Homo sapiens: one gene and its partner. The protein of the gene in region 1 purifies or fractionates together with the protein of each later gene. This does not show direct contact. Each region holds a gene or a part of one and is shown on either strand. Other genes may lie near its edges.

Region 1 (4,841 bases):
CCCAAAGTGCTGGGATTACAGGCGTGAGCCACTGCGCCCGGCCTATCTGTAGTATTTTTGACCGACATAGTGTATTTCAAGTTTTGGACTATTATGAATAATGCTCTTGTGAACATTCTTGTACATGTGTTTTGTTTATGTGCAGGCATTTCTGTTGGTATGTAACTGGGAGAAGTGCTTGGTGCCTTGTGGTTGCCCCTTGCTCCATGCAGGCAGAATCAATGCTCCTACCTGAAATTCATTTGGATATTGATATGGATGATGCCATATGTAAGCCAGAGAGTATGAAAATGTTTAGTACATAATGGGGCTTTTTGGGGAGAGCTGCACAGGCATCCAAGCTGATCTGTTTGGCTTAAGTGAAGAGAGAGGCAGGTGGCTTTAGTTTTTATGGTGGTTCCGTGGGGCCAGGGTCAGGGTTCTCATGCAACCCAGAGCATGCGTGGGGAAATTTAAGCCACGCAGCCATCAGTGGGTGCCCAGGGAGTGAGCCTGTGTTGTGCAGATTTGGAGGCGAAAGGGGAAAAAGGAGGAGTGGGACTTGAAAGCTGTTAGTAAGCAAACATAAAAAATGGAGGCACACTTTCATCAGTAGGGTACGACAGTTCTAATTGCTCTATATCCACTCTAATAGTATTACTAGTCTTTTTTAAATTAGCCATTCTGGTGGGTATATAGTAGTATTCCATTGTGGTTTTAATTTGCATTTCTCTGATTACTAATGTTAAGCACTTTATATGCTTATTGGCTGTTTGGATATCCTCTTTTCAGAAATAATTATTCCTCATCTTTAGTCTATTTTTCTGTTGCTTTTTTTTTTCTTGTCAGTTTATGAGAGTTCTAGATGCAAGTCTTTTGTTGGTTATATGTACTGCAGATATCTTCTTACATACTGTGGCTTGTCTTTTCACTTTTTAAATGTGTCTTTTGATTAACCAAAATTTGTAATTGTAATGTAGTCTACTTTATCAATATTTTCCTTAATGCATAGTGTTTTTCTGTTTTCTATTTTATGAATACTTCCCTATCCTAGGGCTATGAATATATTCCCCTGTATTTTCTTCTAGAAGCTTATCATTTTATTTCTCACATTTAGATCTATGATCCACTTTAATTGATTTTTTAGTAAGATGCAAGGTATGGATCAGGTTTTATTTTTTCAATTTTTGAAACTGATTATACTGAACCTATAGATCAATTTTTTGAAAAAATTGACATCTTAAAATAATGAGGCTTTAATCCATGAATACAGAATCTCCATTTGTTTAAATCGTCTTTTGTCATTCTTGAAAAAATGTTAGGTAGTTTTCTATGTAGAGATCTTGTTGCAATATTCTAAATAGGTTTCTTGGATCATTTATTGTATTTGAATCTTCTCTGTCCTTAAAAATTTTTTTGTCTGCTTTTCTGTTAGTTACTAGGAGAGGTATATTAGCATCTATACTATACATGTGGATATGAGTGTTTCTTTAAGTTTCGTTATTACTAAGCACATAACAGATTTTTGAATTGTTTTACCTTCCTGGTATATGACTCGGTTGTCATTAGTAAATGTACTTTTCTATCCTTGTCTTGTTTGTCTGATTTTAGTATAGTTACACCACATTCATTTTGGTTGATGTTTGCATAGTGTATCTTTTTCCCTTCTTTGACTTTAATCTGTGTTTTCACATTTAAGTTATATATGTTATAAGCAGCATATGATGGAGTTGTTATAAAAATTACATTAGGGCCAGGTGCGGTGGCTAACGTCTGTAATCCCAGCACTTTGGGAGGCCGAGGCAGGCAAATCACAAGGTCAGGAGTTTGAGAGCAGCCTGGCCAACATGGTAAAACCCCATCTCTACTAAAAATACAAAAAAATTAGCTGGGCATGGTGGCAGGCACGTGTAATCCCAGCTACTTGGGAGGCTAAGGCAGGAGAATCTCTTGAACCCAGGAGGTGGAGGTTGCAATAAGCTAAGATCGCACCACTGCATTCCAGCCCAGGTGACAGTGCGAGACTCCGTCTCAAAAAAAAAAAAAAATTACATTAGATAATCTCTAGTAACTATGACAGTCCATGGCACATGGTAGGTACTCAATAACTGTTAGGTATTCTAGCTTTTATTTTTAGCCCCTCACCATTTTGTTCAGGATATTGCAGTAAGTGGAAATAACATTTTGTTTTATTAAAGGAGAGACTATGTTTCTAAGTATATCAATTACATTTTCAACGACTCTGTAAAGGCGGTTTATGAAGAATTTCGGAGAGGATTTTATAAAATGTGCGACGAAGACATTATCAAATTATTCCACCCCGAAGAACTGAAGGATGTGATTGTTGGAAATACAGATTATGATTGGAAAACATTTGAAAAGGTACATCATCAAGTCTAAGTTGATTAAATTCAGTTTTCCTTCCTATTTCCTCAATAACTTTTTTTTGTATTTTCTCTAGAATGCACGTTATGAACCAGGATATAACAGTTCACATCCCACCATAGTGATGTTTTGGAAGGCTTTCCACAAATTGACTCTGGAAGAAAAGAAAAAATTCCTTGGTAAGTATTATATCAAGGAATAGATCTGTAATCGTATGTCTTTTTAATGGGATAAAAATTTCCTTTATGATAAGTACCATTTGCAACAGATCATAGTGTCAGAGCTACGCCTAGTCCAACTGAACATCCTCTGTGTCCCAACATCAAAAAACAAATGTTAATATCTATAAGCAATCTTTTCCCCTGTGATTTCATCCCTTCTTATTGCTTTTAAAGTTTTCGTTTCTTCATCCAAGCTAAATATCAAGCCTTCTTTCTGTAGCCCTGTCATCATTCACTTATTCAGCCTTTTTGGGATTAACTAAAATATTTTATTTGGCTAATTTTTACTGTTCCTATATTATTAATACTATATTTGCTATTACTGTACACAGCTATTTTATTTGTATCTTTAGGCTTAATGACTTTCTCATTTTCTATTTCCTTACTTTTGAGAAATATTTATCTTCTATTTTTATTTTTGTGGATAACATGTATGTTAGAAGATATTCAGACTTAATAGAAGCCCAACCTACCTTTCCAGTCTTAACTCCTAGAGGAAATTTTTGTCCCAACCAAATAATCCCATTGTCTGAACACTCCTGAGCTCACCTTGCACCTTCCCACCTCCAGGCCTTTCTGTGAAGTTCCTTCTCCTGCCTTGAACCTCACCTACCTCCTTGTTGCCTTTCTAAACCTTTCCATCCTTAAAGGTCCGGCATAATTCTGAACTCTTGGAAATCCCCTCAGTCATCCCAGCCTGGCTCTCTCTCCTTATTCTCAAGCATAGCATTGACTCAGGAGGCACTTAACTCCATGACACCTCTTCGGGCTGTCTTATACCTTACAGCTTTTCTCTTGCTATTATGTGTCTTTTTCTTCACAAGAATCTAATATTCCCAGTCAGACTTTAAGCTGCTTGAGGACAGTGACTATGTGTCAGACATTGTTCGAATACAATCCCCAATGCACTGTCAAATGTAGGACACTGCACATGGGCTCCAGTGAAGTTTTGTGAATAAATAGATTTTTTTCTCTGTAAAGAGATTTTGGTCTCCATGTAAAACAGATTGCCTAATTTTATTCTTCTTTTTAGTATTTCTTACAGGAACTGACAGACTACAAATGAAAGATTTAAATAATATGAAAATAACATTTTGCTGTCCTGAAAGTTGGAATGAAAGAGACCCTATAAGAGCACTGACATGTTTCAGTGTCCTCTTCCTCCCTAAATATTCTACAATGGAAACAGTTGAAGAAGCGCTTCAAGAAGCCATCAACAACAACAGAGGATTTGGCTGACCAGCTTGCTTGTCCAACAGCCTTATTTTGTTGTTGTTATCGTTGTTGTTGTTGTTGTTGTTGTTGTTTCTCTACTTTGTTTTGTTTTAGGCTTTTAGCAGCCTGAAGCCATGGTTTTTCATTTCTGTCTCTAGTGATAAGCAGGAAAGAGGGATGAAGAAGAGGGTTTACTGGCCGGTTAGAACCCGTGACTGTATTCTCTCCCTTGGATACCCCTATGCCTACATCATATTCCTTACCTCTTTTGGGAAATATTTTTCAAAAATAAAATAACCGAAAAATTAACATAAAAGTCTTATTCACTATTCAATGTGTTTACCAGCTCTTTTGGAATTGCTATCATTGCATGTAAGATATATCAATTATAATATAGATTAAGCTGTGTCTCTCACACAATGTTTGCATGACTTGGCCTGAAGGGATACTCTTTACCTTAGAAGTTTTTTTAAAAAACTTGTAATTATCTACCCAATATCTGTTCTCCCCTTCTTTCAGTACAGATTCCCTATATGGTAGGAGTGGCATTGTTCTCAGTCTTAAAATCATACATTTCCCAGCCTCTCTTCAAGGTAGGGACAGGTGGCAGTGGTGACAGTTATTGGGAGAAGCTTCTGAGGAAGCTTTTTTATTTAAATGCTGTTATGCTTTTAATGGAGTTAGGTACAAAATGCATCCAAGCAAAAGAATGTTGTACATACTCATTAACATAGTGATAAATGTAAATTACACTTTGATAATGTAAAATACAGTGTGTTAGGCCCCAAAAAGAAACTACAAAGTTAGCTGCAACTGAAGATACTGGAAAGACTCCGTAGGTTTTTTTTTTTCTTTTTTCTTTTTTTTGAGACAGTTTCACTCTTGTTGCCCAGGCTGGAGTGCAATGGCGCTGTCTCGGCTCATCGCAACCTCCACCTCCTGGGTTCAAGTGACTCTCCTACCTCAGCCTCCCAAGTAGCTGGGATTACAGGCATGCACCCCCACGCCCAGCTAATTTTGTATTTTTAGTAGAGACAGAGT
Region 2 (7,296 bases), on another chromosome or scaffold:
CATACCTCTATATAGAGAAAACACCCATTCCTTTTTAAAGTCTATTTTTACAGCTGGTCAAAGAGTAAATCGTTATGTAATATTGCTAGGCATTTCCCAGATCTCCATAGGCATCATTCCAATTTGCTTTTCCACAGCAATGTATCAGAGTACCTGTTTCACTCTCAACCTCACTGACTTGTTAAACTTTTTGCCAATTGAAATTCTTGCCAGTGAGAAAATGATATCTCAAAAAGTAAGAAATGATATCTCAGTGTAGTTTATTTAAAAATAAACTTTTTGTTTTAGCATAGTTTTGTATTTACAGAAAAATTGTGAAGATAGTACAGAGAGTTCCCGTATAACCCCATACCCATTCCCCTGGGGTTTTTTCTGGGGGAGGTAGTGGGGCAGAGTTTCACTATGTTGCCCATGCTGGTCTTGAACTGAGCTCAATGATCCTCCCACCTCACCTTATCAAGTAACTGGGACTACAGACACGTGCCACTGCAGCACCCCCATTTTCCTATTATTAATATCTCACATTAATACAATACATTTAATAATTAATAAACCAATATTGATATATTATTGTTAGCTAAGGGCTATATCTGCTGGGCACAGTGGGTCTTGCCTGTAATCCCAGCACTTTGGGAGGCCGAGGTGGGCAGATCACCTGAAATCAAGAGTTCGAAACCACCCTGGCCAACATGGCAAAACCCCGTCTCTACTAAAAAAATACAAAAATTAGCCAGGCGTGGTGGCATGTGACTTAGTCCCAGCTACTCAGGAGGCCGAGACAGGAGAATCACTTGAACTTGGTGGGTGGAGTTGCAGTGAGCCAAGATCATGCCACTGCACTCCAGTCTAGGAGACACAGCGAGACTCCATTAAAAAAAAAAATTATATACTTTATCCAGATTTCCTTAGTTTTTCTTAATGTCCTTTTACTGTTCCAAGATCCCATTTAGGATACCATATTGCATTTAGTTGTCATGTCTCCTTAAGCTACTCTTGACTGTGACAGTTTTTTGGTTTTAACAGTTTTGAGGAGTACTAGTTAGGTATTTTGTAGAATGTCCTTTACTTGAGATTTCTTTATTATGTTTCTTATGATTAGATCAGAGTTATTGGTTTGGGGGAGGAAGGTCACAGAGGCAAAGTGCCATCCTTATCAAATTTTATCAACGGTACGTGCCACCTTTCTTTACAGTCATGTACAGTTGACCCTCAGGATTGGCTCCAGGGTACCCTGCAGACACCGAAGTCCACAGATGCTCAAATCCCTTACATAAAATGATATAATACAGTTGGCCCTCCATATCTGTGGGTTTCAATTCACGATTGGTTGAATTCTCAGATGTGAAACCCTCAGATACAGAGGGCCAACCGTATTGTGTAGCTATCCCTGAACTCTTTATTCTGTCCCATTAAAATCTTTGTCTATCTTTGTACCATGTTGTTGTACATAATGTAGCTTTATAATTAGTCTCAATATCTTTTAGGGCAAGTTCTACCACTTCGTTTTTCTCCAAGGGTGTCTGAGAGAGTCTTGACCCTTTACATTCTCATATAAATTTTGAAATCAGCTTTTCAGATTCCACAAAATACTTTTTGGAATTTTGATTGAGATAATGTTGAATCTATAGATAAATTTGGGGCCAGGAATGATGACTTATGCCTGTAATTCCAGCACTTCAGAAGGCTGAGGAAGGAGAGTTGCTTTAGGTGAGGGGTTCAAGACCATCTTGGACAACACTGTGTAAAAACTCTAGCCAGGCGTGGTGGCTCACGCCTGTAATCCCAGCACTTTGGAAGGCCAAGGTGAGTGGATTACGAGGTCAAGAGATCGAGACCATCCTGGCCAACATGGTAAGACCCCATTTCTACTAAAAATACAAAAATTAGCTGGGCATGGTGGCACGTGCCTGTAGTCCTAGCTACTCGGGAGGCTGAGGCAGGAGAATCGCTTGAACCCAGGAGGCAGAGGTTGCAGTGAGCCAAGATCACGCCATTGCACTCCAGCCTGGTGACAGAGAGAGACTCCGTCTCAAAAAAAAATTAAAAAAAAAAAACTCTCTATAAAAGTTTTTATAGAGAGTTGTGAGTCTTCATCTCTATAAAAACTTTTTAAAAATTAGCCAGGCGTGGTGGTGTGCACTTGTAGCTTGTAGTCTTAGTTACGCAAGAGAATCACTTAAGCTCAGGAGTTCGAGGTTACAGTGAGCTATGATCTTGCCACTGCACTCCAGCCTGGGCAACATAACAAGACACTGTCTGTATTAAAAAAAAAAAACATGGGAGAGAGTTGATATGTTAACAATATTGAGTCTCCCAATCCACTTATTTACATCTCCTCTAATACTTCCCAGCTTCATTCATTAGCATTTTCTCTGCAGAGGTTTTGTATATCTTTTGTTAATTTATTCATAGGTAATTGATCTATTTTAAAACTATTTATTTATTTATTTATTTTGAGATGGAGTCTCGCTCTGTCACCCAGGCTGGAGTGCAGTGGTGCGATCTCGGCTCACTGCACCCTCCACCTCCTGGGTTCAAGCGATTCTCCTGCCTCAGCCTCCTGAGTAGCTGGGATTACAGGTGCCCACCACCGTGTCTGGCTAGTTTTTGTATTTTTAGTAGAGATAGGGTTTCACCATGTTGTCCAGGCTGCTCTCAAACTCCTGACCTCAGGTGATCTGCTCACCTCGGCCTCCCAAAGTACTGGGATGACAGGCGTGAGCCACCGCGCCTGGCCAAAACTTTTTATTATGAAAATTTTAAACCAGTACCAAAGGAGACTGGGCCAGGAGTGTTGGCTCATGCTTGTAATACCAGCATTTTGGGAGGCTGAGGTGGGTGGATCACTTGAGCCCAGGAGTTCAAGCCTGGGCCACGTGACAAAACCCTGTCTCTTCAAAAAATACAAAATAAATTAGCTGGGTGTGGTAATATGCACCTGTTGTCCCAGCTATTTGGGGGGCTGAGGTGGGAGAATCACTTGAGTCTAGGAGGTTGAGGCTTCTGTGAGCCGAGATCATGTCACTGCGCTCCAGCCTGGGTGACAAAGTGAAACCTTGTCTTAAAAAAATAATCAATGACTGGGAGCGGTGGCTCACACCTGTAATCCAAGCACTTTGGGAGGCCAAGGCGGGTGGGTCACCTGAGGTCAGGAGTGCGAGACCAGCCTGGCCAACATGGTGAAACCCCATCTCTACTAAAAATACAAAATTAGCCGGGCATGGTGGCGCATGCCTGTAATCCCAGCTACTCAGGAGGCTGAGGCAGGAGAATCACTTGAACCTGGAAGGCAGAGGTTGCAGTGAGCTGAGATGGTGTCACTGCACTCCAGCCTGGGCAACAGAGCGAGACTCAATCTCAAAAAATAAAAATAAATAAAAATAAATGTATAAACAAATAATAATTTTCTTATATTAGCTGGGCACAGTGGCTCACAGCTGTAATTCCAGCACTTTGGGAGGTGGGAGGATTGCTGGACCCCAGGAGTTTGAGATCAGCCTGGGCAAGGTGGAGAGACCCCGTCTCTACAAAAAAATCCAAAAATTAGCCAGCCATGGTGATGTATGCTTCTGGTCCCGCTATTGGAACGGCTAACATGAGAAGATTGCTTGAGGCTGGGAAGTCGAGGTTTCAGTGAGCTGTGTTCACGCACTCCAGCCTGGGTGATAGAGGGAGATCTTGTCTCAAAAAATGAAAGAAAAAAGTAATAATTCCCTAATATCAAACACCTATTCAGTATTAAAATTTCCGCTTGTCTTGTAAGTGTCATACTTTTTTTGTATGTTTGGATCAGTCTGTTTGGATCAGGATTCAAATAAGGTTCATACATTGTGACTGACCAATATGTCTGTTAAATCTCTTTTAACTCATAACTTCCTCTTTCATAACTTTTTTATTCCTTGAATAAAATTTACTCAATTTACTTCAATTTACTCATTGAAGAAACAGGTTATTTTTCCTGTAGAGTTTCCCAAAGAGAGTTTGTAGAGTGCATTCTAGAAGTGTCGTTTAGCATGTTCTGCTTTCATCCATATTTCTTTTTGTTGTTGTTGTTGTTTTGTTTTTTTGAGAGGGAGTTTTGCTCTTGTTGCCCAGTCTGGAGTGCAATCGCCCGATCTTGGCTCACTGCAACCTGCGCCTCCCAGGTTTAAGTGATTCTCCTGCCTTAGCCTCCAGAGTAGCTGGGATTACAGGCTTGTGCCACCATGCCCGGCTAAATGTTTGTATTTTTAGTAGAAATGGGGTTTCACCATGTTGGTCCGGCTGGTCTCGAACTCCTGACCTCAGGTGATCCACCGCCTCAGCCTCCCAAAGTGCTGGGATTACAGGAGTGAGCCACTGTGCCTGGCCTCATCCATATTTCATTAGCAGTTAGATCTAGAAGGTAACTGTTGGGTGTTTTTTTTTGTTTGTTTTTTGTTTTTGTTTTTGTTTTTTGAGACTGAGTCTCACTCTGTCATCCAGGCTGGAGTGCAATGGCATGATCTTGGCTCACTGCAACCTCTGCCTCCTGAATTCAAGCGATTCCCCTGCCTCAGCCTCCTGAGTAGCTGGGATTACAACTGTGTGCCACAATGCCTGGCTAATTTTTGTATTTTTAGTAGCGACGGAGTTTCGCCATGTTTGCCAGGCTGCTCTTGAACCCCATATCTCAGGTGATCTGCTCACCTCGGCCTCCCACGGTGCTGGGATTACAGGCATGAGCCACTGCACCTGGCCTAATTGCTAGTTTTTATACTATTGTAAGTAACATCTTTCTCAAAATTTCATTTTTTGTTTATTACCATATATCAAAATACCTTTGATTTTTGTATCCACAATCTTGGTAACTCTTTTAATTGATTTGGTGAGTTTATTTACATAATTTTTTTTTTCTTTTTTCATTTTCTTTCTTTTTTGAGATGGAGCCTCGCTCTGTTGTCCAGGCTGGAGTGCAGTGGCGTGATCTCGACTCACTGCAACCTCGGCATTCCGGGTTCAAGGGATTCTCCTGCCTCAGCCTCCCAAGTAGCTGGGACTATATACAAATACATACATACATGTGGTATGTGTAGGCACACGCCACCACACTGGCTAAGCTAATCTTTCTATTTTTAGTAGATATGGTGTTTCACCATGTTGGCCAGGCTGGTCTCCTGTCTCGGCCTCCTGAAGTGCTGGGATTACAGGCGTGAACCACCATGCCCAGCATTGTAGATTCTTTTGTATTTCCTATATATGCAATTACATCACCTATGAATAATGATGGCTTTGTTTCTCCCTTTCCAGTGTGTAACCCTGTTTTTCCTTCCCTTACTGTGCTTGCTATGACACCCAGTGCATGTTGAACAGAAATAGAGATAGCAGATGTTTTGCCTTCTTTCTGATTTCTCTCTCCAACTTTTTACCTCACATAATGATTGTTGCTATAGTTTTCTAAAATCTACCTTTTATGGAATCAAGTGTCCATCTAGACTTAGATTGCTAAGAGGTGTTTTTTTAATGATGAACGACTATAGGATTTTAAGAGCTTCATTTTCTTCATCTATTGAGACAATCATGTATTTCTCCTCTATTCTGTTAATGTGACAGATTATATTGATTGATTTTTCTGAAAAATCATTCAGATTATAAACTACTTATACTTTGCTAGTATAAAACCACGAAGTAACAGGGTGGTCAGAGCATAAAAGAGCTAGCCATGGTAAGACTCGGGGAGAAATTTTTTTTTTTTGAGACAGAGTCTTGTGCTGTTGCCCAGGCTGGAGTGCAGTGGCGCGATCTCCGCTCACTGCAAGCTCCACCTCCCGGGTTCGCGCCATTCTCCTGCCTCAGCCTCCCAAGTAGCTGGGATTACAGGCGCCCGCCACCACGCCCGGCTAATTTTTTGTATTTTTGGTAGAGGCAGGGTTTCACTGTGTTAGCCAGGATGGTCTTGATCTCCCGACCTTGTGATCCGCCCACCTTGGCCTCCCAAGGTGCTGGGATTACAGGCGTGAGCCACCGCGCCCAGGTGAAATCATTCTATATTTACACAAACTCTCATAAATAAGAATAAAGGAAATGGTCCCCAATTCATTTTGTATTAATATAAAACCTGTAAGGATGGTACAGAAAAAGTGAATAAATTGATTCAAATTATTATTGAAACAAAATATTTAACAAAGGGAATTTAGCAATATATAAAAGGTAATACATCTTACTATTGCTAACTATATTAAACTGTGACTTCCTTTTTTTTTCGGTTAGGCCCATTTTTTGTCTCAGTGTACTTATTTTTATACATAATTATTTATCTGTTCACTTCTTTTGATTCACTCCTAAGATTTTTTCAGAATATTTTCTTTTTCTTTCTTTCTTTTTTTTTTTTTGATGGAGTTTTGCTCTTGTTGCCCAGGCTGGAGTGCAATGGTGCAATCTCGGCTCACTGCAACCTCCACCTCCCAGGTTCAAGTGATTCTCCTTCCTCAGCCTCCCGAGTAGCTGGGATTACAGGCATGTGCCACCATGCCAGGATAACTTTTTTTTGTATTTTTGGTAGAGATGGGTTTCTCCATGTTGGTCAGGCTGGTCTCGAACTCCCGACCTCAGGTGACCCACCCTCCTCGGCCTCCCAAAGTACTGAGATTACAGGCGTGAGCCCCCATGCCCAGCCCCAGGATATTTTCATGAGGGAAACCACTTGAATATTGTTTAGATATGGATGCTTTGGGTAAAGTGCTTTTTTGTTTTTCTTTTTGAAATTAAGAAGAAACATGGCGGCTATCCTTCTCTCACATCGAAAAGGAAATTTTGAACAATCATGGAAAATCTAAAACGTGCTGTGAAAACAAAGAAGAGAAATGTTGCAGGTAACAGCCTTATTTTGTTAAATGACAGATTATCTATGGTATGCTTAATTATTTGTTGACTCCACACCTCAGACCTGAAGAGCTGAGCTGGGTTGGGTCTGGGGGGCAGGGCAGGATTGGGTTGAGCTGGGGAGAGTGTGAGTATGAAACCAGAGAAGCTAGATCCAAAGGGCCAAGGAAAGGGTGTTGTTAGAAGGCAAGGCCGGGGAATAGTAGTTCTGAACCCTGGATCAGATGAATGTGTTTTTGTATAGATGTATCAGTAGGACAGAGTGAGAGGGTATGAGCACTAGCCATGACAATTCGATGGGTCTTAGTATTCTGCTTGTTTAAAAGTAATGGATATTAATGCCATATAATTGGAGGAGGCCAAAAGGTCGCTCTTATTAGATACTGGGCTTGCTTTGGGATAGTTGGGTTGTGTTGACGGCTAGGGATTGATTGGCCAAACTGAAAACAACACTAA

The links.
Region 2: the proteins of HERC5 (region 1) and CGAS purify together in Homo sapiens (affinity purification with western blotting; 2 studies listed by BioGRID, with this or other methods). This does not show direct contact.

The regions. Positions count from the first base shown.
Region 1 is NC_000004.12:88,502,055-88,506,895, forward strand, and holds the end of HERC5 (E3 ISG15--protein ligase HERC5), read left to right. Parts: intron 1-2,177; coding exon 2,178-2,361; intron 2,362-2,440; coding exon 2,441-2,543; intron 2,544-3,618; coding exon 3,619-3,824; 3' UTR 3,825-4,109; downstream 4,110-4,841.
Region 2 is NC_000006.12:73,428,243-73,435,538, reverse strand, and holds part of CGAS (cyclic GMP-AMP synthase), read left to right. Parts: intron 1-6,727; coding exon 6,728-6,830; intron 6,831-7,296. UniProt on the Homo sapiens protein: Nucleotidyltransferase that catalyzes the formation of cyclic GMP-AMP (2',3'-cGAMP) from ATP and GTP and plays a key role in innate immunity.